Linked DNA regions of Homo sapiens: regions 2, 3 and 4 are each reported to be linked to region 1. The links are microRNA targets in miRTarBase. Many come from high-throughput screens and were not tested one by one. Region 1 holds a microRNA gene; each other region holds the end of a gene's coding sequence.

The links. The annotated mature microRNA hsa-miR-6502-3p reads UAGACCAUCUUUCUAGAGUAU and lies in region 1 at 2,916-2,936, opposite strand. An mRNA with a match to its seed (bases 2 to 7 or 8) in the 3' UTR can be bound and repressed. Matches are read on the target gene's strand: a 7mer-m8 pairs with bases 2 to 8, a 7mer-A1 pairs with bases 2 to 7 and ends in A, and an 8mer does both.
Region 2: miRTarBase lists DRAXIN as a target of hsa-miR-6502-3p. Seed matches in the 3' UTR shown: 7mer-A1 at 4,406-4,412.
Region 3: the mRNA of BICD2 is a reported target of hsa-miR-6502-3p. Seed matches in the 3' UTR shown: 7mer-A1 at 3,819-3,825.
Region 4: the mRNA of IFNE is a reported target of hsa-miR-6502-3p. The part of its 3' UTR that is shown has no 7-base or 8-base seed match.

What each region holds. Positions count from the first base shown.
Region 1 is chr12:66,246,944-66,254,063 of GRCh38, reverse strand. It overlaps MIR6502 (microRNA 6502), which reads right to left and starts at 2,982; the gene lies at 2,907-2,982. IRAK3 (interleukin 1 receptor associated kinase 3) reads right to left here. Exons shown (of 12, transcript NM_007199.3): 12 at 1-6,369. The coding sequence ends at 5,893.
Region 2 is chr1:11,718,268-11,725,387 of GRCh38, reverse strand. It overlaps DRAXIN (dorsal inhibitory axon guidance protein), which reads right to left. Exons shown (of 7, transcript NM_198545.4): 7 at 1-5,804. The coding sequence ends at 5,692. Among named protein-coding and RNA genes, the nearest start is that of AGTRAP, 14 kb to the left of the region's middle. RefSeq lists an enhancer at 5,575-5,644.
Region 3 is chr9:92,709,221-92,716,340 of GRCh38, forward strand. BICD2 (BICD cargo adaptor 2) reads right to left here. Exons shown (of 7, transcript NM_001003800.2): 7 at 2,143-6,243. The coding sequence ends at 5,934. Among named protein-coding and RNA genes, the nearest start is that of IPPK, 43 kb to the left of the region's middle.
Region 4 is chr9:21,474,621-21,481,725 of GRCh38, reverse strand. IFNE (interferon epsilon) reads left to right here. Exons shown (of 1, transcript NM_176891.5): 1 at 1-887. The coding sequence starts at 32. The coding sequence ends at 658. MIR31HG (MIR31 host gene) reads left to right here. Exons shown (of 3, transcript NR_152879.1): 2 at 4,434-4,557. Among named protein-coding and RNA genes, the nearest start is that of IFNE, 4.1 kb to the left of the region's middle.

The sequences.
Region 1 (7,120 bases):
TTTTTGTCAATTGCTTTATCTTTGCCAATATGGGAGGACAAAATTAATAATAATAAAATAAAATAACACATCTTTATTAGCTGTTTTCATGTTCAAATAGAGGACACTTTTAATTTTTAAGTTATTCTTTTTCAAGGCAGATATTTCCTGGACTTGAATAAAGTGTTTTTGGTTTGTATTCTCATTCCATCAGTAGTATGACTTAGGGCAAGAGCCAACTCCTTTATGCTTCATTTTTTTAAATCTAATAGATCAAGGAAATGGAAACCGGCTCAATAGGTTGTTTAAAGCTTAAGAGATGTGTGAATGCACCTAGCACCTACTAGACACAACAATGAGCCTGCATTTCCGCAAGTAAGCCATTCCTACCTCCTTACCCCCCATTCCAATTAATGTTTGTCTATAAGAATATTTTAAAATTCAAGAGCCAATGTAAAACTCTGTAAATATTATCTTGCTATTTATAGAGACGACCAGAAAAGTTTGCAATGATGCAGATGACATCCATAATGAGTCTCTTAAATGAAGGTTTGGCAGGCAATACAGGTCTTTTGAATAAAAATGTCTCCCAGGAAAATACTTGCAAGTCAAGCCCACAGACCATCAAGTATATATAAATGATTTGGAACGGGAAGACAGATACAAAACACAACAAACATCAGTTTATTTCCTGCCAGAACACTGGTTTTTCATTGCTTAGACATGGTTTGGGAATATTTTCCACCATAGAGAAAATTTATAAGCAACACATACAACGACTAATCTTCTTTTCGAAGATATCTCAGATATTAGTATTTAAAATTAGTAGCTTTTATTCAAGAATGATGAAATGGAATAATTTAAGCAATGATTGATTATATTCTGAATACTAGAAAGATAAACTTCGGGTGCAATCTAGATGACAATCTTGATTCTGAAGATGCTTTGAAGGACTATTTGATTCATTCATTTTACAAATATTTGTTGAACCATATTATGCACCAGGTACTGTGCCAGCCATTAGGGATCCAAAAATGAGCAGGACATAGACCTTTCCCTCAGGGAACCTGCAGTTTTGTGGAAGAAGAAATATAATTTAACAGGCAACTCCAGTATCACGTGATAGTGACCTGAGGTTTGTGTAGGTGCCTCAGACCCCCGGAAGATGCCATCAGTATCCAAACAAATGCCCCAAAGAAACCACATACCAATAGAAGAATAGAATCTGTCACAATTGCCAGCCACAAAGCACACCATAAACTACTTAGTGCATATGAATAGCAAAGTGAGGTCCACCATGGGATTATCAGTTACACAACAGGACAAGGAGAAAACCTCTCTGAACCCATTTGGAAGAGCTGGCAGAGGAGCCAGGACCTATGACAGGAGAACCACCCTGAGATTTATTCACTTACATATAAGCTCCATGAGGGCAGTGAGCTTTGCTGGTTTCCATCTGCACTGTAGCCCCAGCTCCTAGAATAGTGCCTGATACAAAGGAAGCCATTGCTAAGTATTTATTCAATGAATGGAAGTTTGGATGGATGGATTCATTTAACTCATATCAAGTAACTGCAGTGGGTGCCTGTAGCAGAGAAGTTGTAGCAGAGGAGTAGGATAGTGATAAAGGCAGGAGACATGGTACCTACTAAAAATCTGTGGAATCAACAAATGACTTTTCACATCCATCCCTTTTCATAGGAGCTTGAACTGGCAGTGACTCCATTGTGCAATTTGGAACACAAGAAAAAGCATGGATTTTGAAGTCAGACAAATGTGAGTTCAAATCCTGGCTCCTCCAGATCTGGAAGGACCTGATGGGAGGACTGGGAGGACTTGATTTTAGCAAGTTAGTTTCCTGACTCAGTGTCCTCACCTTATTATAAGATGGGATCCACACCTTCAGGGTGACTCTAAGGGTTAACCAGAAAAAAACATGCAAAGCTCTAGACCCAGTTCCCTTCACCCTTACCCCATTTTTCTGGCATTAGGGATGGTTGTGCACAGCTGCTGTGGATCCCCAATTCCTTGAATAGCCATCCTGAGTGCTTCGTCAGTGCTCTTTTCTATTTCTCTTAATTCCGTATCTCTTTTCAGAAACCTTCTCCAAGAAGCCTTCTTCATCCTCTCAAAAATGCATAGTAATCTATTCCTTCTTCTCACCCTTTCAGCATTTACTTCGGTTGCATTGGTGTGTGGTTCAAATAACAGATGTCACTGAACTGTTGACTTGGGTAGATGCCCTGTCTTCCTTATTAAACTGTGTCTTACTTTGTACCTTAGTAGCTAATGCAGTGCTTTGATTCTAGCAGATGCTTAATAAATGCTACTCATGATAAACCTCACTTCCTGTACTCATCAGTCCTCAGGTCATTAAAGTTGTTTTACACAGGGTGATGTGCCACCCTATAAAACTACAATATTATGCAGTGAGTCACAGATCATTACAACTCCCAAGAAGTCAATAAAATTGATTATATCAGAAATCCCATACCTGTTTTTAAAAACAACAAAATGTTTTCTCCATGTGTTTGGGCATTATAAAATGGGACAAAAGCCTGAAGCTTAGTAAATAGGATCTGCCTGGAGGATTGCTCAGAGTGCATTACAAAAATGAGAGTAAATGAAATTATGAATTCATGTTTGCTGATCAGAGGGAACACCCGGAGACTCATTCTTGCTTTCTTATGTATCTTGGTCTCCACATCATGAAACTATAAAGGTATCCTCTTATTACCCATAGAAAGTTGCAACATTTAATTCATATCAACTAACGCTTATTAATACACCCACTAGAAGGCAAATCTAGTCAGGAAGACTGAATCACTCAACAGAAGATTTGGTACTTCCCAGCCACAGTGGCATCTGCTTACCACAACGTTAATCAGGTCACTGCCAGCTTATCTGACTTCATCTTTGAGGTGTCCAAAATAGTTATACTCTAGAAAGATGGTCTAGTCAATAAGATGATTGGTCAACAATCTTTCTAGAGCTCCCACTCTGTGCTAACCAACATCCTATGTAATAGGATGAATATAACAGAATGAAAAGAAAGGATCCTTTTCTCAAAAAACATACCAGTGATGGAAAGGTAGGATCTACCAATCTATAACAATTTAAGAGCACCTTAAGGCAGCGATTTTCACGGATGTGAAGAGCGGGCTTCACATCATTGGCATCAGCATCACCTGGGAACTCATTAGAAAGCAAAATTTCTAACCCCAGACCTATTGCATCAGAAGCTGGGTGGACCCAGCAATCTGCGTTTTTAACCAGCTTTCCAAGTCATTCTGATGCATACTACAGTTTGAGAAACCCTGCTTTAAGTCAGCTAAGCAAGTTCAAATCAACATAATACCCACAGATTATATGTGCGGAGTAACTGCATGGGCCTGGTGTTAATCAGAGCTTCCTTAATGACCCTTCATTGAATGTATTGGTGGGGGTCCATATTCTAAGTGAAAAACAGTTTAACACAGAGTCAATTCTTGATGATCTCTTTTGTGAATCAGAGAGCTCTGAGCAGCCAGATACCGTACAGAGCAGTGGTGGGCATGGGTTCTCCCAACTGCTTACCGAGGGCCTGTATAAAGCCTGTCAGTCAGACTAAGACTTACTGTGGTTTTAATCTCACTTCGTGCTTTTTTGGAAAATTGTAACTCCATGTTTCTGACCTTGGTCTGTTAATCTCACCCTGATTCCTGATGATTTTCTTCTTTGATTAGTTGTTCTTCAACATGGAATCTAATGTGAATATGATTAACCCAACCATACTGACTCACCAAAAAAATAAAATAAAACAAAAGACATGAGCCTATTCCTCTGCTGGACAAGAAACTAGAGGTTTACCCTTCTATTACAAGCTCCTTGGAGAGGAAAATTCAGTAAATCCTCTGAAAATGGTTTTCTTCAGTGTTTCTATCCATCATCATAAGGAGTCATTATCCTCCCTTTGTTAATTTATTCGGCAATGTTTATTATAGCTGAATTATTGATTATGTGGCTTCATAGGGGTAATTTAATTCAACTTAATTTATAAGGAAACACCTGCTCTGTGTAGGATGACACATTAGGCTCTGAAGAGATGGCCCTTACACACTCAGGGAGTATGACAGACAGAGTAATGGTCCCCCGAAGATGTCCACGTCCCAATTCCAGAAACCTGTGAATATGTTACTTTACACGAGAAAACGGACTTTGCAGGTGTAATTAAATTAAGGATCTGAGACACAGAGATTTTCCTGGCTTATATGAGTGGGCCCAGTGAAATCACAAAGGTCTTTATAAAAGACATGCAGAAGGGCCAGAATGAGAGGAAGAGGGTAGTGAAGAGATGCGGTGAGACAGACAGAGAGAGGGAGATCTGAAATGTCACGTTGCTGGCTTTGAAGACGGAGGAAGAGGCCATGAGCCAAAGAAGGCAGGTGGCCTCTAGAAGCTGGAAAAGGCAAGGCAGTGAGTTCTCCCCAACAGCCTCCAGAAAGAATGCTAAGGAATTCTGACCTCCAGAACTGCAAAATAATTAATTTATGTTACTTTAAGTCACTAAATTTGTGATAATGTGTTACAAAAACAATAGAAAACTAATATAGGGAGTTTACAACCTAGTAAAAGAGATGAAGGCTGGGCGCGGTGGCTCACGCCTGTAATCCCAGCACTTTGGGAGGCCAGGCAGGCGGATCATGAGGTCAGGAGATCGAGACCATCCTGCCTAACATGGTGAAACCCCGTCTCTACTAAAAATACAAAAAATTAGCCGGGCGTAGTGGCGGGCGCCTGTAGTCCCACCTTTACTCGGGAGGCTGAGGCAGGAGAATGGCGTGAACCCGGGAGGCAGACCTTGCGGTGAGCCGAGATTGTGCCACTGCACTCCAGCCTGGATGACAGAGCGAGACTCCGTCTCAAAAAAAAAAAGAGATAAGACAAGCAGCTTTGATATAATTCAGAAAGTGATAAATATAAAATAGAAATACAAAGAAATTGCTGTGGAAATACTGATAAAGGGAGTACTTCTGGTTGTAGAGATTAGGGAAGCTTCCAGGAGGTGGCTGTTTTGTAGAGCTCTGATGATTGGTAGGATTTCAAAAGAGGGAGATCCAAGAAACAGCAGGAATGAAGGCCCAGAGTTGAAAGGTGTAGATTAAACAAAAAGCTGACCTAGGCCCTTGACCAGCCATTTTCTCAGGAATAAAAATTACTTGATGGACATTTCACATAGTCTCCTTAAGATATAATAGGTCACTAAGTCTGTTTTTAAAAAGCTGTAATAATAGTCAATACAGGATAAACTGTCCTAAGAGTTTAGGATAGATCTTGGGAAGAAATCCCCTTTCAACCCAGAGCATGCCGTAGCTAAGGGTGAACCTGGCTCATTTTCAGACAAGCAGGCTAGTCAGGGATTAACCAAAAAACAAGAGGGGTCAATCAGAATAACAAGGTGATTCTTTCCAAAGGTATCTATTAACATTTACAAATTAGACATTTCCTACAACCCGTGCAAGCAAGCTAAACCAAACGATGGAATCCAACTGAATGTTCTTGGCAGATGGAGGCTCTGAGGACTCACACTGAGGATGATGGAGAGGACATTACAATCCAGTCCCTTTTTGGTAGGTTTTGATTGTTTTGTTTGGCTGAAGTCAGAACCCATGATCTTAAGGAATTTTGAATGGCTCTAATTGAGCGTGGATTTGGTCATGAGACAATTATCCTGATAAAACAATTTTTTAAGGCACTCTGTTTGAGGGTTTGGGAAAAAAGAAATGGAATTATCCAGATTGTTTATCTGCATCACCCAAACTCACTATTGATCATTCTCTTGGCATTGCTTATGGAGCCAATGTCTTCCCAAGGTCATACCTATGCTCAGGTGCCTATGCAATACTTGCTTTTTTCTTTATCTTCTGGTAGAATTTATTCTTTTTTGTACTGTTCATATTCATCCCAGGAAAATTTGGAGGAACAGCTGCTCTCCACTGGCCTGCTCCTGCAAGAATGCCCTGGAGCTTCTGAAGAAGGATCTATATTTACCTTATAGGGCCTTAAGTCCTGGGATGGAACTATATACTTTGGGAACCAACTTTCTTCACAAGAAGAACTGGGCATGTTGCAAGCTTCCTCATTTCTCTTGCTCTCTGGCTTTTTGTCCAAGCTCAGAAACATAACCTCAGACTGGCTGCATTCAAAAGGAGTTTTCTGAGTCATTCTGTCTATCCTCAGGCCTTCATCAGAAGGTAGTAAATTGTTATTCTGGCTTTCATCATCTTCCACTGGAATACTTGGTACATTCTCCAGGAATAGAGGAGAAGGACACCTGAAGGACTTTAGTGATGTGGGAGGATCTTCAGCAAAATACAAGCTGGCTTGAGTACTTTCAAGAGTATTTAAAACCTAATAACAAAGAAGCAAACAGACATTAAATTAAGTTTGAATAATCTTTCCTTTTACCTTTTATCACTCTACCTATAAAGAATATTCTTTCATTTTCATGAAATTAGTTCAGCTATAGAATTTTGAATTAGAAGGGATCTTAAAGATTAGCTAACGCCCTTTATTTTGAGGAGTAAATTAAGTGACTTAAAACCAGGTATAAAAGAAACTACACTAAAGTAAATACCAAGAGACCTGACTTAAGCCTCAGATTTGCCACCAACTAGCTTTGTGAACTTGGGCAAGTCTCTACATTTTTTACTTCAACCATAATATGTGGAAGATTGGAAGGGAATAAGGAAATGGTGGGCCCAACCTGTAATTCTTAAATGCCAGTTTTTTGTTGTTGTTCTTGTTTTGTTTGTTTGTTTGTTTTGTTTTTTTTTGAGATGGAGTCTCACTCTGTTGCCCAGGCTGTGGCGCAGTGGGATAATCTCGGCTAACTGCAACCTACGCCTCCCAGGTTCAGGCAATCCTCCTGCCTTAGCCTCCCAAGTAGCTGGTATTACAGGCACGTGCCACCATGCCCAGCTAATTTTTGTATTTTTAGTAGAGATGGGGTTTCGCCATGTTGGCCAGGCTGGTTTCAAACTCCTGACCTCAGCTGATCCACCCACCTCAGACTCTCAAAGTGCTGGGATTACAGTCGTGAGCCAGGGCCCCTGACTAAATGCCAGAAGTTTTAGGGAGCTCTTTTAAAGTGCATATCCCT
Region 2 (7,120 bases), not on the chromosome of region 1:
TTCTGGCTCAGTAGGCGTGGGGTGGTGGGGCCCAAGAATCTACATTTCTTTTTGTTTTTTTTGTCTTTTTTTGAGACAAGGTCTCGCTGTATTGCCTAAGCTGGAGTGCAGTGGTGCGATCATGGCTCACTGCAGCCTCAACCTCTTGGGCTCAAGCGATCCTCCCACCTCAGCCTGGAGAATAGCTGGGACTACAGGTGTGCACCACCATGCCCGGCTAATTTTGTTATTTTTTGCAGAGATGAGGTCTCCCTATGTTGCCTAGGCTAAGATTCTGCATTTCTACCAAGCTCCCAGGTGCTGTTACTGGCCCGGGACCGTAATCTTGAGTGTCTAAGGTCTAGAAAGCCTCTTGCACCCAGAAGTGACCCAGCCATGGATCCTGTATCAGACTGCTTGTTCTGACTTAGAATTCAGAAAATACACTCCCTGCAATATAAACCCCTGGTTCTGCAAACTGCCCTTCCCAGGAAAGGCAACCGTCCCTGCTAACCTCCTCCCCAGGAAACACACACAGTCACCATTGCCTGTCAGAGTGAAGACTATCACAGAGGTGACAGGGCTCAGTCCAACCCCGTGAAACCCCCAGTGAGGAGCCACAGTGGTTTGCTTCTCTGGCCTCTCCACTGTCTCTCCTAGCACCATTTTCCTGGCTGTTCTGTTGTTTTATAAACCGGTTCCTTGCAGGTTTCAGGTATGCTGTCTCTCCAGCTGCAGAGTGAGCCCCACGGCAGGGGCCGTGTGCCCACCACCTCAATGTTAGGTTTTGTTGGGTGGGTTGAATATGGCTTGAAATAAGGACCCACCTCCAGCAGCTCAGTGGTAGAAGGGGTTGTGGCTTTAGGATTTACTTTGTGGCTTGGTCACTCCTCAAGGGGCTGTGAAGCTGTCATTTTCCCACAAGCCTTGGCCCTCATGTCATTGCATGCTCAGCCTATTCCCAGCAGGCATGGAAACCACTCTTGGTGTCTCCAGACAAACTACGGAAAGGCAGCCCTGTGGGAACAGCAGGTATTCCTGGGATCCGCGGTGAGACTCCAGCTGGAGGAGTGCAGGAGGGTTCAGGCCACGGGCCCAGCAGCTACTGGTTGCCACCTGGCCTCCTGCTCAGCTCCCCCACTCCACCCAGGGTATCATTTTAGACTCCAGCACCCATTTTATTGCAAAGCCACTTACTCCTCCAGCCCTGCCTCGGTGCCTGGAATCTGCACATGCTGCCAAGGGCTGAGGCCAGAACAGTTTTCCAAACCTCTCTGACCATGGAACCGTACCCTGACCCTTTCTAATAGAGCATCTCATGGTCCCAGTGTTCTATGGAACACACTTTGGGGAAGGAGCTTGAATGGTGACTTAGAAATGATCTCAGAGTATGTGATGGGTCATTGTCAAAGAACCGACATCTAAAATTCTCCTAGAATAACAAATTAGCTAACACTGGAGGTTTATTAGGTGCTAGGCACTGTTCTAAACACCTTATAAGAATTCTGCGTTCACAGGCCAGGCATGCTGGCTCATGCCTGTAATCCCAGCACTTTGGGAGGCTGAGACGGGGGGATCACCTGAGGTCAGGAGTTTGAGACCAGCCTGGCCAACATGGTGAAACCCCATCTCTACTAAAAATACAAACAGTAACCGGGCGTGGTGATGCTTGCCTATAATCCCAGGTACGCGAGAGGCTGAGGCGGGAGAATCACTTGTACCCAGGAGGCAGAGGTCGCAGTGAGCCGAGATCGTGCCACTGCACTCCAGCCTGGGCAACAAGAGTGAAACTCTGTCTCAAAAGAAAAAAAAAAAAAAAGAAGTATGCATTCACTACTCACAACAACCCTATGAAGGGAGAGTTATTATTCCCATTTTACAGATGAAAAAATCAAGGCACAGAGACCTTAAGAAACTTTCCTAAGGTTGCCAAAGCTGTGAGAGGTGGAATAGGTGGATTTAACACCAGCCACACTGCTACAGATGGAAGGGGAGAGCAGAGACTCTCCGCCCCAGCTGCACCTGAAGTTACCTGGGAGAAAAACTATGAAGCCCAGACCAAACAAAACAGAAGCTTTGTGGGTGGGCCCCAGGCCTGTGAATGTTCCTGGATTATTGCAACGTGCAGCCAGCGTTGAGAGTGAGCAGGCTTGAGCAGGGGTTGGCAAACCGTGACCCTCAGGCCAAATCTGCCCCACTGCCTGGTTTTGCGCAGTTGGCAAGCAAAGAGCAGTTTTTGCACTTTTAAATGGTTTTAGAAAATTAAACTAATAATATTTTATGGCCAGGTGCGGTGGCTCACACCTGTAATCCCAGCATTTTGGGAGGCTGAGGCGGGCGGATCACCTGAGGTCAGAAGTTTGAGACCAGCCTGGCCAACATGGTAAAACCTTATCTCTACTAAAAATACAAAAATTAACCAGGTGTGGTGGCACATGCCTGTAGTCACAGCTACTTGGGAGGCTGAGGCAGGAGAATTGCTTGAACCTGGGATGAAGAGGTTGCAGTGAGCTGAGACTGAGCCACTGCATTCCAGCCTGGGCAGCAGAGCAAAACTCCATCTCCAAAAAAAAAAAAAAGGAAAGAGAGAATAATATTTTGTGACATGTGAAAAGTATACAGAATTCACATGTGTGTCCAGAAATAGTTTTCCTGGAGCATAGCCATGAATTCATTTACACACTCTCTGTGGCTGCTTCGAGCTACGGCAGAGCTGAGTAGCTGGTGGAGATCAGATGGCTTGCAAATCCTAAAATGTTTATTTGGCTCCTCACAGTAAAAGTTTGCTAAACCCTGGATTAGAGGAAACTGGCTTCTGTATGAGCAAAATAAATTTAAGATAGACCTAAGGAAGAACTTCCTGGCAGAGAGGTTGGTTAGACACTTGAGAGGGCTTTGGGATTCCCAGCTCTGGAGTTAAGAGGTTCCATCCACCCATCCCTCTTTGGAAATGTCAAATAGAGATAGCTAGGGCAAAGAGACGGGCCTTGAATTTCCAACCATGGAACTACCCTGGCAACCAGTGGCAGTTCTATGGGCATTTTAGCTTTGTCCTGACCCTCTGTGTTCTCCATGGCTGATGTCCTAGGACCATCTAACAGCTGTCCCCCAGCCATAGTAATGCTGGGCTTTCTTCCGGCGGTACTCCTTAGGGTTCTAGCCCCACAGAGCCAGCACAGTCCCGAGTCACCACTTAATGTGAGGCACACACAGCATGTGTGGGTTGTCTGGTCTCAAGTACGAAGCTGCTGGCAGATCTGCCTTTTTACATTTTTAAGTGTTTTATATTTTTGGAGTCTCACTCTGTCGCCCAGGCTGGAGTGCAATGGCGTGATCTTGGCTCACCGCAACCTCCGCCTCCTGGGTTCAAGTGATTCTCCCGCCTGAGCCTCCTGAGTAGCTGGGATTACAGGCACCTGCCACCATGCCTGGCTAATTTTTGTATTTTTAGTAGAGATGGGGTTTCACCATGTTGGTCAGGCTGTTCTCGAACGCCTTACTTCAAGTGATCTGCCTACCTCGGCCTCCCAGAGTGCTGGGATGTCAGACATGAGCCCTCGTGCCCAGCCTTAATTTTTGTATATTTGGTAGAGACCGGGTTTTGCCATGTTGGCCAGGCTGGTCTCAAACTCCTGACCTGAGGTGGTCCGCCCACCTCAGCCTCCCAAAGTGCTGGGATTACAGGCATGAGCCATTGTGTCTAGCCATATCTGCCTTTCAGCTAGCCTGCTTTGATCTCCCAGTTCCCCTGCCCTCCCTGCTCCCTCCCCACAAGGTTCCCATGCCCATCAAACTTGGATAGGGAGAGAACAAGCATATTTAATTTCTTCTAGATCTGCCTGCTTTCCTTGGTGCCTGACCCCTGACCCCGACTGATTTTTCCAACGCAGTAAACATCTCTGGCATCTTATGGGCGTGATCCAGGCCAGTGAGGAATTTGGCCAGGAAAGTCTTTTGTCATTTGCAACCTGGTTCGCCCTGGAACAGAGGGTTGGCCAGGAGTGAGATGCCAAGTGGGGGGATTTAAATGGTTCTCCTGAAGTGACCCCTGAAGCCAGATCTGCTGGGACAGATGTCCTGGGTGGGCATTGTGAGTCTGGCCTGTTAGGGGCAGTTAGCTTCAGATAGCACCTCAATTTCAGGTGAGCCTCAACTTCCCAGTGGGCTCTGCTGCAAAAATGTGGGGTGGGGTTCCAGGGATGGTTTTGTGGTCCTGGAAATCACTAAACAGTATGCAAAGTGGGTAAACATGGGCAATATGTGTGGGGTTTTTTTGGATTCCATGCTTGCATCAGAACCCCTGGGGGGGAAGTGCTCCAGAAAACTGTAAAGTGCCTGTCCAGGACTGGATGATCAGGACCACAGGGACATAAAGGCCAACATGATTCTTTTCCCCAAACACTTCTTATCCCAGGATATCAGCTACTAGACCACAGGGATCAACCTGCCCAACTTATTCCTGCAAGCAAGTATGTGCTTAAGTTGTATTTTGTTTTGTTTTTAAACATGATACACCTTTATCCAGGGAAGGCAGAGAACAGTCAAGTTATTCCAGCCACAGAGGAAGGGAATACCAGGGTGTGAGCCTCTCTTGCCAAAAGCCTTAGAGAATCTGGAAGAAATTCTTGGCTGTGGAGCAGCAAGAACGTGGGCCTTGGAGCTGGACAGCCTTGGCCCAGGTTCATGTCCTTGCTCTGCCATGTACTTCCCAGGACCTCTCAGTGGGTCCCTGGGCCAGCAGCCTCGCGTTCCCTGGGAGCTTGTTAGAGCACAGAGCCCACTGAGTCAGATGTGCTTTTTTTTTTTTTTTTTTTTGAGATGGAGTTTCACTCTTGTCCCCCAGGCTGGAGTGCAGTGGCACGATCTCTGCTCACTGCAACCTCTGCCTCCCAAGTTCAAGCGATTCTGGTGCCTCAGCCTCCGAGTAGCTGGGATTACAGGTGTGCACCACCGCGCCTGGCCTAATTTTTGTATTTTTAATAGAGACGGGGTTTCCCCATGTTGGCCAGGCTGGTCTCGAACTCCTGACCTCAGGTGAGCCACCCGCCTTGGCCTCCCAAAGTGCTGGGATTACAAGCGTGAGCCGCCGCGCCCGGCCAGATGTACATTTTTAACTGGACCTCCAGGTGACTCTTAGCATGTTCAGGTTTGAGGAGCACTGACCTGGGACCCTGGGCAAGTCGAGTCAAATAACTCCAGCGTGCCTCACGGTCCTCAACCTGTCGCATGGTGATAATGCCTACTTGAAAAGGTCGTTGTGATAATTCAATGAGATAATGTATTCCAGCACTTAGCACAGTGCCTGGTACATAGGAGATGTTCCATATTCATCTCCTGATGGTGGACCTTCTTTCGGGAAGTTTAAATTTCTTTTCCACTCTCAAAAACGCCTCTTGGTTTTGAACTTGAAGCTGTTGCAGTGCTGGAGTCGGACAGTAGAGGGCACTCTCGGCATTGCCATCGCGGAGAGCAAGACACGCGGGATGGAGGCTGCGTGGGTCCGGACTTCGTGTGTGCAGGTGCTGCGGGCCGGCTCCTGGGCACCCACCCAGCTCATTCGCCGAGCGGCTCCCCTCCTGGGGTTGAGTGTCCTGGGCCTGAGTCTGCAGCCTCAGCCATCTGTTCCCCAACTTGATCTCCCACTGCTAGTTACAAACAAATCGCCCGGCTTGTGCAAACCTCCTGGGCTCAGTCCCCAGTCCCGCGGGGCCGCTAGACGTTGATGAAGGATCCCTGGTCGCCGTTGGCCGTCTCGGGCTCCACACAGCGCCCTTTCCTCCGTGTAACCCTGCGGTTCCGGTGGAATTTGGCATAGCAGCGCAGCCCTGGGCGAGTGGAGGCAAGGGGGGTCAGAGGCGCGAAGGGCCCGTGCCCTCCCCTTCCTTCCCCTGCACGCTCGGGGCCAGCCAGCTCCCTCCTGCCTTCATTATTCTGCCCTACAACCCAGCTTCCTCACGGCAGCCCCAATGAGCTTAAAAGACACGAACCCGGAAGAGGGGAGGAATGAACACGGAAGGAGAACAGAGAAGACTCAGGGCGGTCGGGGCGGTGAACATATTCTGTGTGACACGTAATGGTGGGACATGGCATGCATTTGTCAAAACCCACAGAATGCACCGCACAGTGAACTATAACTTACGTTGACTTCAGTTAGTAATAATAATACATCACTATTGGTTTGTCAAGCAACAAATGTACCAAGAGAGGCCGGGCACGGTGGCTCACGCCTATAATCCCAGCGCTTTGTAAGGCCGAGGCAGGTGGATCACTTGAGGTCAGGAGTTTGAGACCAGCCTGGCCAACATGGTGAAACCCCGTCTCTACTTAAAAAAATACAAAAACTACCCGGGCATGGTGGTGGGTGCCTGTAATCCCCGTTACTTGGGAGGCTGAGGCAGGAGAATCACATGAACCCGGGAGGTGGAGCTTGCAGTGAGCCAAGATCATGCCACTGCACTCCAGCTGGGGCGACAGAGCTAGACTCCCTCTCAGAAAACAAACAAACAAACAAACAAACAAACAAATCTACCACATGATTGCAAGATGTTATTAATAGGAGAAACTGCATGCAGGGGCAAAGCAGGTATATGAGAACCACATTCTGTGAAATTTTTCTAGAAAACTGCTCTAAAAATAAAGTCCACAGGGTACGGTGGCTCACACCCGTAATCCCAGCACTTTGAGAGGCTGAGGTGGGAGGATCGCTTGAGCCCAGTAGTTCCAGACCAGCCTAAGCAACATAGGGAGACCCTATCTCTACAAAAAATGTAAAAATTAGCCAGGCATTGTGGCATACACCTGTAGTCCCAACTATAGGAAGGAGGGGCTAACATGAGAGGATCCTTTGAGCCCAGGAGTTCCAGGCTGCAGTGCGCCTTGGTTGCACCACTGTAGTTCAGCCTGGGTAACAGAGTGAGACTCTGTCTCAAAAAAATTAAAAAATAAAATACACAGATAAATTCAATTAAAAAGTCTATAATCTTGAAAATTGGAAAGGAAAAAGGTTATTAAATTTTTTTTTAAGTGGCTCAAATTCTGCCCTTCCCTGTAAAACATCCTATGGAGAGCCATTGCTTTTTTTTTTTTTTTTTTTGAGATGGAGTTTTGCTCTTGTCACCCAGGCTGGAGTGCAGCGGCACCA
Region 3 (7,120 bases), not on the chromosome of region 1:
AGGACTTCTGGGGGATATCCTCACTTGCCTTTCCTCTGAGTGCTGGCTACACAGTGTGACAGTATTTAGTTTGCAAAAATCCAGTTGGCCAGTGGACACTTTTATTTGCACTTTAATGTATGTGTGCTAAATTTCACAAAAACTTTGATGAAGCAAACCTGATGTGGCATGTCTGTTCTCCTAGGAGGCTTTGTGGGAAGAAGGCAGCCCAGTGACTCACCAGGACTAGCAGACACCCTATTAATTTGTGCTGATGAAGGATAAATACTCCCCAAAAAGCATACCTGAGGGTAGGGGTGGAGAACTTTGGGGTTACTAGTTACATAGCTGTGTTCACTGTGTGCAAATTTGGCCTGTATACTAGGATGTGCACACTTTCCTGGATGCAAATTACACTCTGTTAATAAGTTGGCTTAAAATTATATTCCCCAAAGGACAAAGACCTAGATACATGGCCTTGTGTCCAAAGCACTGGTGATGATGATGACAGTAAGAACCATATTAGCACCAATCATCAATTGAGTACCTGCTGCATGCTGGTACCAAGGGCTTGATGAAGCTTCACAACCACCTATACAAGAGGCACTATTTTGTCCCCACCTAACAGATAGGGAAGTTGAGGCTCAGAGAGCTAAGGCAGCCAGCTACCAAACGGTGGTGATTCAATCATCAGTCCGGCTCTCAAGTCCATGCTGTTGTTTCCAGCTCTAGTAATCTGCCGGGAAGTAGGGGTGAAAACACTGCGGGGAGATGGAAGATGCAGAAGAAATGCAGACCACCCTCTCCCAGAGGGAAGGCTGAGCAGAAGGCCTTTCAGCATGGACTGTCCCCCTCTGCAAGCTCCTGAGACCCCACCCACTCAAGAGGCTGCCGCTCCATCCTTGAAACTGAAGACTGTGTTCAAGGACCCAGAAGATGAGGATGGGGGAGGGCAGACTCAGTGTCTGGATACCTGTGCCAATCAAATACACCACCAGGCAGAAGTGAGCCAGGCCACACTGGGCCATGCACAAGTGTGGGAGTGGAAGGCACAGACACTGTCCCTGTAAAGAAGCCTGCCCCACAGGGCCCTGACGCTTTACACCTCCCTTCTCCTTGAGGTTCTTCTAGATCAGTTCAGGGCTTTCTTTTCAACCTTTTCCAGGAGTTGGACAACTGCCTCTTTTACTCCATCAGAAAGAATGGTTTAAACTGAAAACAAGTCCCAACAGCTGCTACTAAAGCAGAATAGTATCATCAAAGGCTGGAGGTTCTGCAGTGACAGTGAAACTAGGAAAGGTGGTATGGCAGTGAGACTGCAGTCAGATGGAGGGGTCCTGGGGAAGGGGCATGGCAGCAAGACCCTAGCCTGAGACGGCTTTCCAGAGGGAAGCCCTACATGAGTGAAGCCACACAGGCCTGACTGAGGCTGTCGGACTAGGAGGTGGCAGGAGTGTGTCCTGGTATTTACTGTCCCCTTGACTAGACACTGTCCCCTTTTCTCACACCCACAAGCAACCATATGAACGTGCCCACTGTATATTTGTACATATTCCTACAGACAAATGTGATTCCTGGGTTCAGAGAGTGAGAGTTTAGACAGCAAAGGATTCTACATCATCTGAATCCCTGCCTCCTCATCAGGATAGCATAGGCTACTCCTAGTTTTAGTCTATGTATACACAATGTGTTCTTACCAACATGCTGCTGTGGCTTCAAACCTGATGCTGCACTTCAGAAGACCCTTGAGGACAGAGTTATGAGGCGTCAGGGCCCTGGGGGGCAGGCATCTTTCCAGGGGGGGGCATTGTCTGTGCCCTCCACTCCACTCATGTGCGTGGCCCAGTGTGGCCTGGCTCACTTCTGCCTGGTGGTGTATTTGATTGGCACAAGCACCCAGACACCAACTCTACCCTTTCCCTACCCTCATCTTCTGGGTCCTTGAACACATTCTTGTTTCAGGGATGGAGTGACAGCCTCCCCACATATACATGACCCCTCCCCATTCTCCTGAAGGTGGACCCCAGGCTGCTTCCAGTTCCCACTACCAGGGTTACCTGATAGGCTTGTTGCTGTTGTTGTTTGAGGCAGTGGATTTATTGTGCCTTGCTTAAACCACAGTTATCTGGAGCACGGAGTCAGAACAACCACAGAGAACAAACATGTGCTTTGTCTTTTTATTATTCTTTATTGGTCCTACCAATGTGACTCTTTACCCAGGCCCACTGTTCCTATGCGCACTGGCTTTGTAGGCATTCACATCATATGTCTGTGTCCTGAAAATCTCAATTAATTTCTCCTTCCTATTCCTTTTCCATGCTCTGCCTCATTTTCTCAGAAATTGAAGGCATTTGATTATTATTTTTTTGTTTGGGTCTGTGTAAAGGTTCCTTGGCAGGAGAACATGCATATGACTTTAAAATAAAGACCAACATTCTGACACTAAGGTAATGCACAGAAAAAATACAGTACTCAGACATCATTGCAAATAAATACCCCATACAGATGAAGTTATCTCAAATGTAACAATATTTCTTATGAATCAACACTGTAACGGAAGGTAAAAATAGGAGTCCCTACAACTAGGAATAAGAAATGCTTATTCCAGGAAACAGAATTCTTTTATTTTTGTCATTTATATTATTATAATTTTTCCTTTTTTGGAGAAGGAAGGACAGTTTTTCTTCCTCCAAGAGTACCAATTTGACCACTCCCACTAACCTCACTCAGCAAACAAAACAGGATGTAGACCTGGTTTGCTAAGGAGTTTTAATGAGTTCTGTTTCCTGAAATTAACAGTGATTAGTTACACCAAGCAAGAGAAGATATAATGTCTCGCTTTCACATTTGCAAAGAATACTATGGCTAACCCTCATCCCCTACTGCGCATGCCAACACAGCGTCGGCCCTCCTGATACCCTCAGCTCTTCACAAACGTGGCGTTCATACAGCTTGCTCAGCTTGTCCCAGAAGGTCCATTTGGTTCCCAAAGCACACTCAAGGTTTTGTGTTTGCTTTCATTTTCTAAGCCCCTGAATTTGCAAGTAAAGAATCACTGACTAACAGAATTTTGCACAATGACTGTTTTCTTTCCCTCAATGAAGATGCCCAGGTCTGGGTGTGAGGAGCACCTGCCTCACCTGCTGTCCACGCTGGCCTTCAGCATGCCCACTAGCTCTTCCCTGCTCGCTTTTGAGAATGATCTGTGCTGGGACACCTCCCTTAACTGATGAAGGCACTACTGGCAATGATTACTAACAAAAAGGTGTTGAAAGAGAACACCCTAAAAATCGACGACTGTAGAATTTTCTAAGTGTACCACAATTTGGCACAACAACCAGAGTAACAAAACAATTCCAATTTGGAATTTTATTGGTACAGTTGTATAAAATTCTGTTAATCAGTCATGCTTCACAACGTCCTAAAACCCAGAAAATTCTGGAATTTGTAGGTAATACTACTCATTCAATAATTTATCTTTTTTTTTCAAGTGCCTATTACTGTTTTAACCAGAGCAAAGGTCAAGTTTTCTTCTTGTTACATTGAACTATTCCTAAGAATAATAATAATACAATATGAAAAACCCCAGAATCTGAATACCCTGGATTTCTTAATGAACATGGCATTTAAAATCTGTAATTTCAAACATGAACCACAATGCCGTATGATCTAAAGGCTGCTGAACCACAGCGTGGATACACTTAGCTGAGCTCCTCGCTGGGTCAAAGCACTCATCTCCGAGTCTAAAGCTACACGCTATGGAGCACACAGCTCTGCCTCGTGCTGACACCAGACAAACACGGTGGGAGCTGAGGCGGACAGCTACAGGACCACGAGCATAGACCACGGCACCTGAGACCGTCTCTACGCGAGGAATTAAGGAAGCAAATATAATATCAAAATATCAAAAGTGCACAGGTTGATCGGATAAAAAAAGAACATGTGTAACAAGGAGCCCCCGTGGTGGGCGTTTCCAGTGGGCTCCTGGCGAGCCTGGCAGCCAGGGAAGAAGGGTCTTCGGCCCATACAGAGGCCTTTCCACGCAGCAGCTCGCAGCATGCTCAACATTAAAGCTTTTTTTCCTCCCATTAAAAACCTGGGGAATGCTATTTTGAAAAGAATTGCAGTGGCATATCCAAAAAGTTTCTAAGTGGGCTTTTAGGTTGCCCTTCCTTCCTCCTTGTGGGCCACGAGAGGGAAGGGGAAGGGGCTGCAGTGTGACAGGGCCGGGTGGCCAAGTCCTCCTGGCAGCTACTCTACAGCTGAAAACGGGAGAAAAGAGAGCGTTAGAAAGCGGTCATCTGTCGCTTCCTGTTTATCTGACAATTGAAGCTCTCCACGTGCTGGGAGGGCGCGAGCACGTTAGTTGGCAGAAGAGAAGACCTGCATGTGTTAGCAGGGGTCCCAGTGGCTTGGGTGTCTGCAAAGTCCCTTAGGAGTATGGAGAGAAGCTATGTGCCAGGCTTGCAAGGAGAGGGCAAAGCGCATGCAGGGTGGGCATGCCAGCAGCCATCCCACTGCGAGTCTTGCTGGGGCAGGGGGATCTGGGCCCAGGATGAACACGCAGGGGACATACATGGGCGTGTCCTGGAGTCTGGAGGGGACCGAAACATACTCGGCACCAAAGGGAAGAACGCGCAGGGCAGAGAGCTGTGGGAGGGGGCAACACGGTCTCTCACCAGGTAACTCGAATGCCTCTTCCGCATGAGAGACAAGGCAAGCAGCCTGCAGGAGAGAAGACTGCAGCCTCAGGTCCAGCTGGTCCCACAGGGTGATCGGGAAAAAAGTACTGAGAAAAGTTCTGCTCAGAATGTGGGAAGGCAGGTGTGGATGGAGCCTCTGGAAATGGGAGAACCCTACAGCTACCTTTCCTCTTTCTCTGTTGCCATCCCCCAGATTGCACTAAATAAAGAGACCTAAACATCTCCTACCTGTGAATCCTGACAAGTGGCCCTGGCCCTATGCAAAGCTTTCCCAGCACCGGGCTGGGCTCTGGATACACCTGTGGGTGTCCAACCCAGCCAAGCCCTTGGTGGCTCAGACTTCAGGCTAGGGTTTTCAAAGCCCCATGTCTTTGGGACTGAACCCCCTATGGAAGGCCGGATAATTGGCTGCTGGGGTCACCCCAAGTACAAAAGGACGGGCTCTGCACTAAGGACCAAGGTCTGGCCAGGCACTTGGAAAGCTTTTCTCATGAAAAATGAAAACCTGGGGCCTTGGGCCCTGCCAATCTGTCACCTCACAGGCCACTATACAAGCATCCTGATCTCAGAAATGAGAAACCGAGCTCTGGATTCCTGGGTTATGGTCAGCTGTGTCTGTGCCATGTGTGTCTGGCCAGCAGAATACAGGGGCTCAGGGCTGCTCTTCTCTGGGCTTGGGGAAGAAATTCTGCACTTCTTTCCTGAATATGATTTGCAGTCAGATACTGCATAAACTACAACGTACTCCTTTCCATGAAACTATGCCAAGTGCAAAGCCATCCTCTGAGGTCGTACCTATGCTGCAGGCTGGAACCTCCTAAAACTGCTTTCTAGTGCTGACATTAGACACATGCGAGGAACATGCAAGTCTCAACTCAGGTTCTGCCCCTTTTGGGTGCTGAGGGAGCAGGACCAGGACTCCTCCCTTGGGTTTCCCCACGGGTGCGCAGGGCTTAGAAGATGCTTTCATCACACATCTGCTGCAAGAATGTGCAGCTCTATCCCCACCTCTGACCCCCACCTAAGAGAGCAGCTGAGGACTGGGTGCTCCTGAGGGGGCTTTGAGGAGTGAGAAGCGACACAAAGCTCTCACAAGTGTCCTGCTGATGCAACGCCCCATGGCGCCTCGGCTAGACTCCTACCCTCTGTGCATTAGTCACGTTAAGATTGACCTAGCACCGCCGTCCCGCTGCTGCTGGGTTAGTTGAGGTGAAGCAGATGTTAGCTGCAGCGTGCGGCGCCCCACAGCCCCTAATCACAGTAAATGCTGTGCTTCTCGCTGCAGAACACCTGGTTGGCCAGCCCGGTGCCCTCGGCCCTGTCGCTGGCACAGGCACAGGTGTGACTTACGCTCGGTGTGGCTGGCTTGGTCTTCGGGGCGGCTTTGGCACGGCCACGCCGGGTCTGCTCATGGTCCAGCTCGAGCAGCTCCAGCCGCTGGGTCAGCGCCAGCTTCTGCTGGATGGCCATGCGCAGCAGCGAGTTCAGCGTCTTCTTCTCGTCCTCAGCAGCCGCCAGCTGCCGCTGCATCTCATCCAGCTGTGTAATGTACTCGTCACACCTGTGGGTACCAAAAACATGACTGAGGGGCGGGCAGAGCCGAGCAGAGGAGGGCAGGGCAGGGCAGGGCTAAGCTGCACGGCCCTCTGACAGCCCTATACCAGAGCCATCCTTCAATGTGGCCTCTGGACTGGAGGGTGTGGCTGGGGAAGAATTATTCTGGCTTATTTTAGCACAGGCTTTGCTTGGACAAATCCCTGATAAGGGTGAGAGGGAGGCTTGGGCCCAGGCAGGGCAGCCCTATGAGGCTGGCTTGAGTTTTGTGGTTTTGTGGGGGAGGGGCTGCTTTGCTCTTTCAGCTGCATGTAGTGCTTACAAACAGGCTATGCCCCTCAGCGACTGGGCTTCTTCTAGGAGGCGCTCTCCCCGCTTAAAGGCCTCGAGGTGGCCTGGGGCATCAAGACATGGAGAAGCCATGGCTTCTAGGGTGTGGATGTAAATCTAAGCAGGACTGGGCTTGTTCCCAAGGTCGATGCTTCGTCAGTCTGTGCTGAGCACTGACCAGAGCCAAGGAACCACGTGTGTGGACGCCATCAACAGCTTCATCCTGAAACCCGGGTGCGGAGCTGTGGGAGGGTGTGGTCTGTCCCTGGATGCCCTTCTTCCACATGTCCCATATGGGTGGGGCTTGGTAGAGACAAAGGGCGGGTTAAATCCCAGGGCTCCCAGGGCGGTGAGGCTGTGCAGGCACTGAGCACAGCCCCACCCTGCCCACACGCACCCTACTCTGCCTGTCCCCACCTGCCAGGAGCCGGCCCTTGGATAGCACCCTCTCCAAGGACTCTGCTGCCCACCCTTTTGAGGGCACACAGAGCTGTGATCCCTGCAGATTCAAAATCTTGGCTCCATCTGAAAAGTTTTTAAATAAAACAAATTTT
Region 4 (7,105 bases), not on the chromosome of region 1:
GCAGGGATAAGTAGCATATTTGACCTTCACCATGATTATCAAGCACTTCTTTGGAACTGTGTTGGTGCTGCTGGCCTCTACCACTATCTTCTCTCTAGATTTGAAACTGATTATCTTCCAGCAAAGACAAGTGAATCAAGAAAGTTTAAAACTCTTGAATAAGTTGCAAACCTTGTCAATTCAGCAGTGTCTACCACACAGGAAAAACTTTCTGCTTCCTCAGAAGTCTTTGAGTCCTCAGCAGTACCAAAAAGGACACACTCTGGCCATTCTCCATGAGATGCTTCAGCAGATCTTCAGCCTCTTCAGGGCAAATATTTCTCTGGATGGTTGGGAGGAAAACCACACGGAGAAATTCCTCATTCAACTTCATCAACAGCTAGAATACCTAGAAGCACTCATGGGACTGGAAGCAGAGAAGCTAAGTGGTACTTTGGGTAGTGATAACCTTAGATTACAAGTTAAAATGTACTTCCGAAGGATCCATGATTACCTGGAAAACCAGGACTACAGCACCTGTGCCTGGGCCATTGTCCAAGTAGAAATCAGCCGATGTCTGTTCTTTGTGTTCAGTCTCACAGAAAAACTGAGCAAACAAGGAAGACCCTTGAACGACATGAAGCAAGAGCTTACTACAGAGTTTAGAAGCCCGAGGTAGGTGGAGGGACTAGAGGACTTCTCCAGACATGATTCTTCATAGAGTGGTAATACAATTTATAGTACAATCACATTGCTTTGATTTTGTGTATATATATATTTATCTGTGTTTTAAGATTGTGCATATTGACCACAATTGTTTTTATTTTGTAATGTGGCTTTATATATTCTATCCATTTTAAATTGTTTGTATGTCAAAATAAATTCATTAATATGGTTGATTCTTCAAATGGGTGTATTTTCATACAGGCTGGCTGGGTAGATACAATAAAATATGCCACTAATGTAAAAATACTTTCCTTAACATAGAACTCCATTGCAATGATTTGCTTATTTGCCAGAAATTGCTAGAGACAATGAGAAATATTGGGAATAATTTGCATTTTAAGATTTGAAAATATTATTACACAGTGAATATTTACATTACAGGAGACACAATAGAAATATGGTGAAAGGACATGAACAGTTTGCAGAGAAAAAAAACTACATTAAAAGAGGTTCAATCTCACTCATGATAATAGAAATACAAATTAAATAGCATGCATGCCATTTATAGTACAACCACTATGGAGGCAATTAGGTGATATCTATTACAGATGCATGTAGCCTTTCATCTATAAATTCTAGGCCTGGAAATGTGTCCTATAAAAATACTTGCCCACAGCTGGGCGTGGTGGCTCAGGCCTGTAATCCTAGCACTTTGGGAGGCTGAGGAGGGTGGATCACAAGGTCAGGAGTTCGAGACCAGCCTGGCCAATATGGTGAAACCCTGTCTCTACTAAAAATACAAAAATTAGCCGGGCATGGTGGCGGGCACCTGTAGTCCCAGCTACTCGGAAGGCTGAGGCAAGAGAATCACCTGAACCTGGGAGGTGGAGGTTGCAGTGAGCCGAGATCATGCCACTGCACTCCAGCCTGGGCAACAGAGTGAGACTCTATCTCAAAACAAAACAAAACAACAACAACCACAACAACAAAAACTTGCCCACGTGTGAAATAACTTACAAACAATATTATTCTCTGCAGCACTATTAGTAATACCAAAAGTCAAGAAACCATCTCGATTTTCCTAATTAGAGACAGTTGAGGCATATTCATATAAAGGAACACTATTCAGCTGGAGAAACAAATGAGACGGTATTTCTTTTTAAAAAGTTGAAAATAGGCAAGATACAGAGCAGTGTACATAAAATGCTACATTTGGGGTGAAAATGTTAAATAAAACTTACGTTTGTCCTTACTGTGTATAAATAAAGAATAAGAAATAAATTACAATGATTACCTGTATTTAGGAGAAGAAGGAAGACTGAAGAAGGAGATTAGGGTGGGAGAGATTTTATAGCTCCTCTAAAAATTTTTATATTAAATTGTGTGAATATTACATATTAAGATAATAATTTAAAATGTATCTAACGAGTCACAGTTATCAGAAATATGCATGAGGGAGTCTGGCTGGTGAAGGTCAAAAGGAACAGGAGACTGAATTAGCCTGCCCCTGGTTGGGATGTCTGCTTGGAGGAGGGCTGGAGAGAAGCACACCCGTGCCAAGGGAGAGGGTTCCTGCTCCTGGGAGATGCCAGTGATGGAGGGATTCCAGCTCTTCTAGCCAGGAACTCTCAGAAGTCACCACGGAACAACGTGGGGGCAGAGAAACTAAAGTTGAGGCTTGGTGGCTATCCCACTTTCGTCCACTGTAAGGGAGCAGAGCCACAGCCCAAAACTCTGATGCTAGTTCTACTACCATGTGTCATGTTCTACGTCAGATGCATTGCATAATTGGAGGTAAAAGTTAGTAGTAAATGTAAAAACTTAGGAACGAAGCATACTCCAGTTCAGTTTAATTAATGCAAATGAGTAATGGCTGCTACTTTAGACTTGGTTTGAAAGGGAAGAGTAGGAACCGAATAGGATCCTGAAAGTGAGACAGTCACCTGCAATAGTGAAGAAGGGTAAGGAAGCAGAGGCTGTCAATCAGAAGCAAGTCTTTGCTGACTTCACATTGCAGCCAGGGGTTGATCTGTTTACCTTCAAATTCACACAAAGGTAGTGAAGTGGAGGAAGGAGAAATACCACAAGGAACTGCAAATATAAGTTACTTTTCTTCTCATGGTCTAGAAAATTTTTTGTTGTTCTTTAAACCAGGAAGTTTTTGGAACCAAATCCTTCATTTAACACATTATCCAATTTTCAAATTGACCTTACCAAGTGCCTTCTGTAATTATTTTTTTCTCAAGTGAGAACAAGACTGTAAAGGTGAAATAACATGCTCAAAGTAATGTAGCAAGCCACAGAGCTTGCAGATACCAGAGCAAAGATCTTATCCCAAGTCAGCCTGACTCAAAAGCCTGCACTGTGTTGTTGACAACTCAAACCTGAATAGCATTGTGAAATATCACTGCAAAATAATAATAACAATAATAATAATTTTCTCCTAGCTTTCTTTATTCAAGTTTACAATGGTCTCTGAAGTCTTGAATTAAAGAAAAGATATTTTCCTTTCTCTTGACATTGCTTCCTTAAGAACTGAGAACAGAATGGAGGAACTGTCAAATGGAAACGTTTAGAAAATAATACTCATATTTAGAAGTTTAAACTAATACTTTATATACTAATGTTTTCCCAAACATTTAGGTTTATTAAGTTGATATCCTGTTGTATAACCACCTCAATGCCTAGCACAAAATAAAAAATTGTTACTTCTAAATATGTGTGCCCTTTTAAAACTCCAAAACCAGAGTTCTAAACTTGGGAATATTGGGAAGGAGAGACGTATTAAAAGATTGGACTCCTGGCTTAGTAGCACATGGAAAGGCTTGGAGTATGGGTAGGTTCATTTGTATTTGCAGGCTGAGTTATATTTTTGTTACATCTATATGTATTGAGCTAAACAAATCATTAAATCCAAAAGCAGGTTACAAAATAATAACAGCATCATCATATTTTCTACAAATAAAACATTCATGAAAAGTATATGAAAAGAAATGCATGAAAATGTTCATAGTACTACTGTCTTTGGGATAGAATTTACATTCACTTAAACTTTTTGGATTAAATATTTCTCCCATGAATAAGGATTCCTTTTAGAACCAGGAAAAAAAAATTATTATATTTTTGAAATTTAAAAAAAGAACAGGCTGGGTGCAGTAGCTCATGCCTGTAATCCCAGCACTTCGGGAGGCCAAGGCAGGCAGATTGCTTGAGCCCAGGAGTGTGAGATCAGCCTAAGCAACATGGTGAGATCCCATCTCTACTTTAAAAATTAAAAACAACTCTTGTAAAGGGCACCTGCTGTAAGTTAAGTCCCACCTCTAACATGAATCAGAATCACCTGGAGGATTTGTTAAAACCCTGATTGCATGGTCCCATCCCACTGTTTCTGATTCAATAGGTCTGTGGTATGGCCTGAGTAATTCCATTTCTAACAGTTCTCACATGATGCTGTTGCTGCTGGTCTTGTGACTACACGTAGTAAGCCGTACCCCTACTTCTTGATAGCCTTGGTAAGTTTTTAAGAGATGAAGGCATAGTTTTTTTAAGGCTACTGATCTCATATTTCTTATGACATCTGGAGAAAAGTTAGCACCCTAGATAGGAGTTAGTTGATGAAGATATATTTTTTTTCTATCACTGCCTTTTCACAGCAGCAAATCAGACATTTTCCTTATTAAAGAAGCTGTATGTAGCAACTGTCATATCCTAGGTGCACCCCATGACAATATCTGCCTTTTAAGGAAAATGGACTAAAGCAAGTTTTGTTTTGTTTTGTTTTCTCTAAGGTTTCTGGTCCTCATACCGTGTGGTTGAGTGAAATCAAAACTTCCACGATAGCAATGCTGATTGGACAAAGAATGTGTTGTGGACACAAAACCAAACTCTGGAGGACAGAGGATTCATTCCAAGGTGAAAAATGGCAAACTTATCCAGTGATCTCCTCTATAGAGAAGTATAAATGTTTGGTAAATAGAGTTGGGGGCCATTTGTGGAATTGCCTTTGGCTAAAGTCATTTAGCCCAAGTTTTCTACTCCTCCCTAGGGTCTGCTTGTATTCAATGACTGGTCTACGTGGGGGTGTGAAGTCCCCTTACTCCACCTGTGAAGAGTCTTCCCAGTTTCAGACCACCCTCCCAGCCTCCTGTTATTGGCTAAGGCCATTTTGTGACTACACTGCAGGTTAGCTTTCCCCTTTGCCTAATCGTCCTGCCTTTTCTTCTCACAAATGTGATTCCATAGCTCTCTCCAATAAACTTGCATAAGAATCCTCATCTCAGAATTTGTTGTCTGAGCTTCAATTTAGGGCCACAGAAAACCTAAGCTCATAAGCTGTTTCTTTTGCTAGCTACATATTCTTTCCCTTATATGTGTTAATAACATTTCTGTTATTCATGATTCACTTAAAATTTTTCCCTTCACGGAGAGCCTTTATAGTCTGATTTGTCTGAACCTATTTGCTACTTGCCCATAGCACAAATCTTACCATGTCACTGACCTCATTGTACTGTAATGGGTTACTTCTCTTTCTTCCAACTAGAGTATTACCTACTTTGTAGTAAGGACATGGCTTCTTAACTCTTTAGCACATTATTCAACATTTAACAGGGACACTCTAAATATTGAATGAATGCAGACTTTTTAAAATATAGCATTAAAGGAAAGAAGGGAGATACCAGTACCATATTGTCATGGCCAATTAGACATATGAGGAGACTGTCTAGAAATGAAGCCTTTCTTGTTTGTGTGGTGTGCTAAGAAGTTAAGTTCTGATGTTTGTTTTTGAGACTCTCCATTATTCCTGGATGGACCATTTAGATATGCTACTTCTTAGAGTGAAAAATGAAGTATTTATCTTTTTCCAGTGAAATGGTGGGTTTTACACTTATATAGCAAGGGCACAATAAAATAAGAACATAATGTGTAGGGCAGAAGTCCAGATGGGAGCCTCTCTTCTAACTAATGGTTCTGATCATCTTAGACAATGCTTTCCTGAACTTTTTTTTTTTTTTTTTTTTTTTTTTTTTTGAGACGGAGTTTCACTCTTGTTGCCCAGGCTGGAGTGCAATGGCATGATCATGGCTTACTGCAACCTCCGCCTCCTGGGTTCAAGCGAATTTCCTGCGTCAGCCTCCAGTGTAGCTGGGATTACAGGTGCCTGTCACCACTCCCAGCTAATTTTTGTATTTTTAGTAGAGACAGGGTTTCACCATGTTAGCCAGGATGGTCGTGAACTCCTGACCTCAGGTGATCCACACACCTTAGCCTCCCAAAGTGCTGAGATTACAGGTGTGAGCCACCGTGCCGGGCCGACCCCACTCTTATGATGTGTCTTTCCTCCCAGTCAGCCGGGGTTGATGGTTGGTTATATCTTCAACTGCCAGGTAATACAGAAACCATTAGCACCATCTTGAGCAGTTCTAAAAGGATCTGTTTTTTGCTCAGCTTTTTAAAAAAACTTAAATTATGAAAATATTAGAACAGTACATGCCAATGGCATAAATGGCTCAATTTTACAATTTTATAAAATATAACACTCTTCCCATTATTCTAGTCAAAAGGCCACTCATTTGTTGTCCAAAATAGGTGGCCACTAGCTATTAATAAAGATTTGGTGGCAATTTTCTTCATTTCTTTGGATTTTATACATGAAGCATTATGAGTAGGCAGAAGATAGCCAGCATGTAGTAAGTGTTTAGAGGTAAGTAGCTAGGGTTACGTAGTAAGTATGCAGGAAGGGACCATAACACAATAACAGTCCTATGAATTTTGCCTTCAATGCAAAAAGAATCCAGTTTCTTAGAGGTGTGAAAAGCTGTTCAGTCAATTTAGGTAGAGATGTTTATCTCTTGGAAAGGATGAAGTGAGGTTTAAATAGAACAAAGGACAGGATTCCGTTGACTAATAAATCATGTAACTTTAGTCTACATAAGAGAGGTAAGCATACATTGTTTTAGTGAAATTTATTCCAAGTTATGTTTCAATATAAGCCTTACACAAAATAAAATATAGATCCTTGGAGAAAATTTAATTACTCTAAGTAATTAACTCTAAGATGAACAATGCAGTTACCAATCTGTATGAAAACATTTGGGATCAAAGTGAATTTATTTTGAAAGCACTGAGAATTGAATTCTTAGCTGGTGTATTATTCAGTGTATCAGATCTTTTTAAAAAAGTAATAGTTCCTAATCCACTCTCATTACTTTAGACGGAGGAATGAGTATCCGAGAAAGAGGCTAGATGAAATTGGAAAGAAATAAGCATATTTCCAGACTCAATGGTGGGATTTGAGGAGACATACTTTGAAGGACCCATTTGTGCCTAGTAGAGGGGGAAAAGAAAGATAATACACTCTGTGGATGGGATAGAGATCAGGAGCAGAAATAACTAAAATAATAAAAATGTACCTGAAATGCCTCTGGCTAAGTGGGTTCTTATTATGGGTTCAAATTAGAGA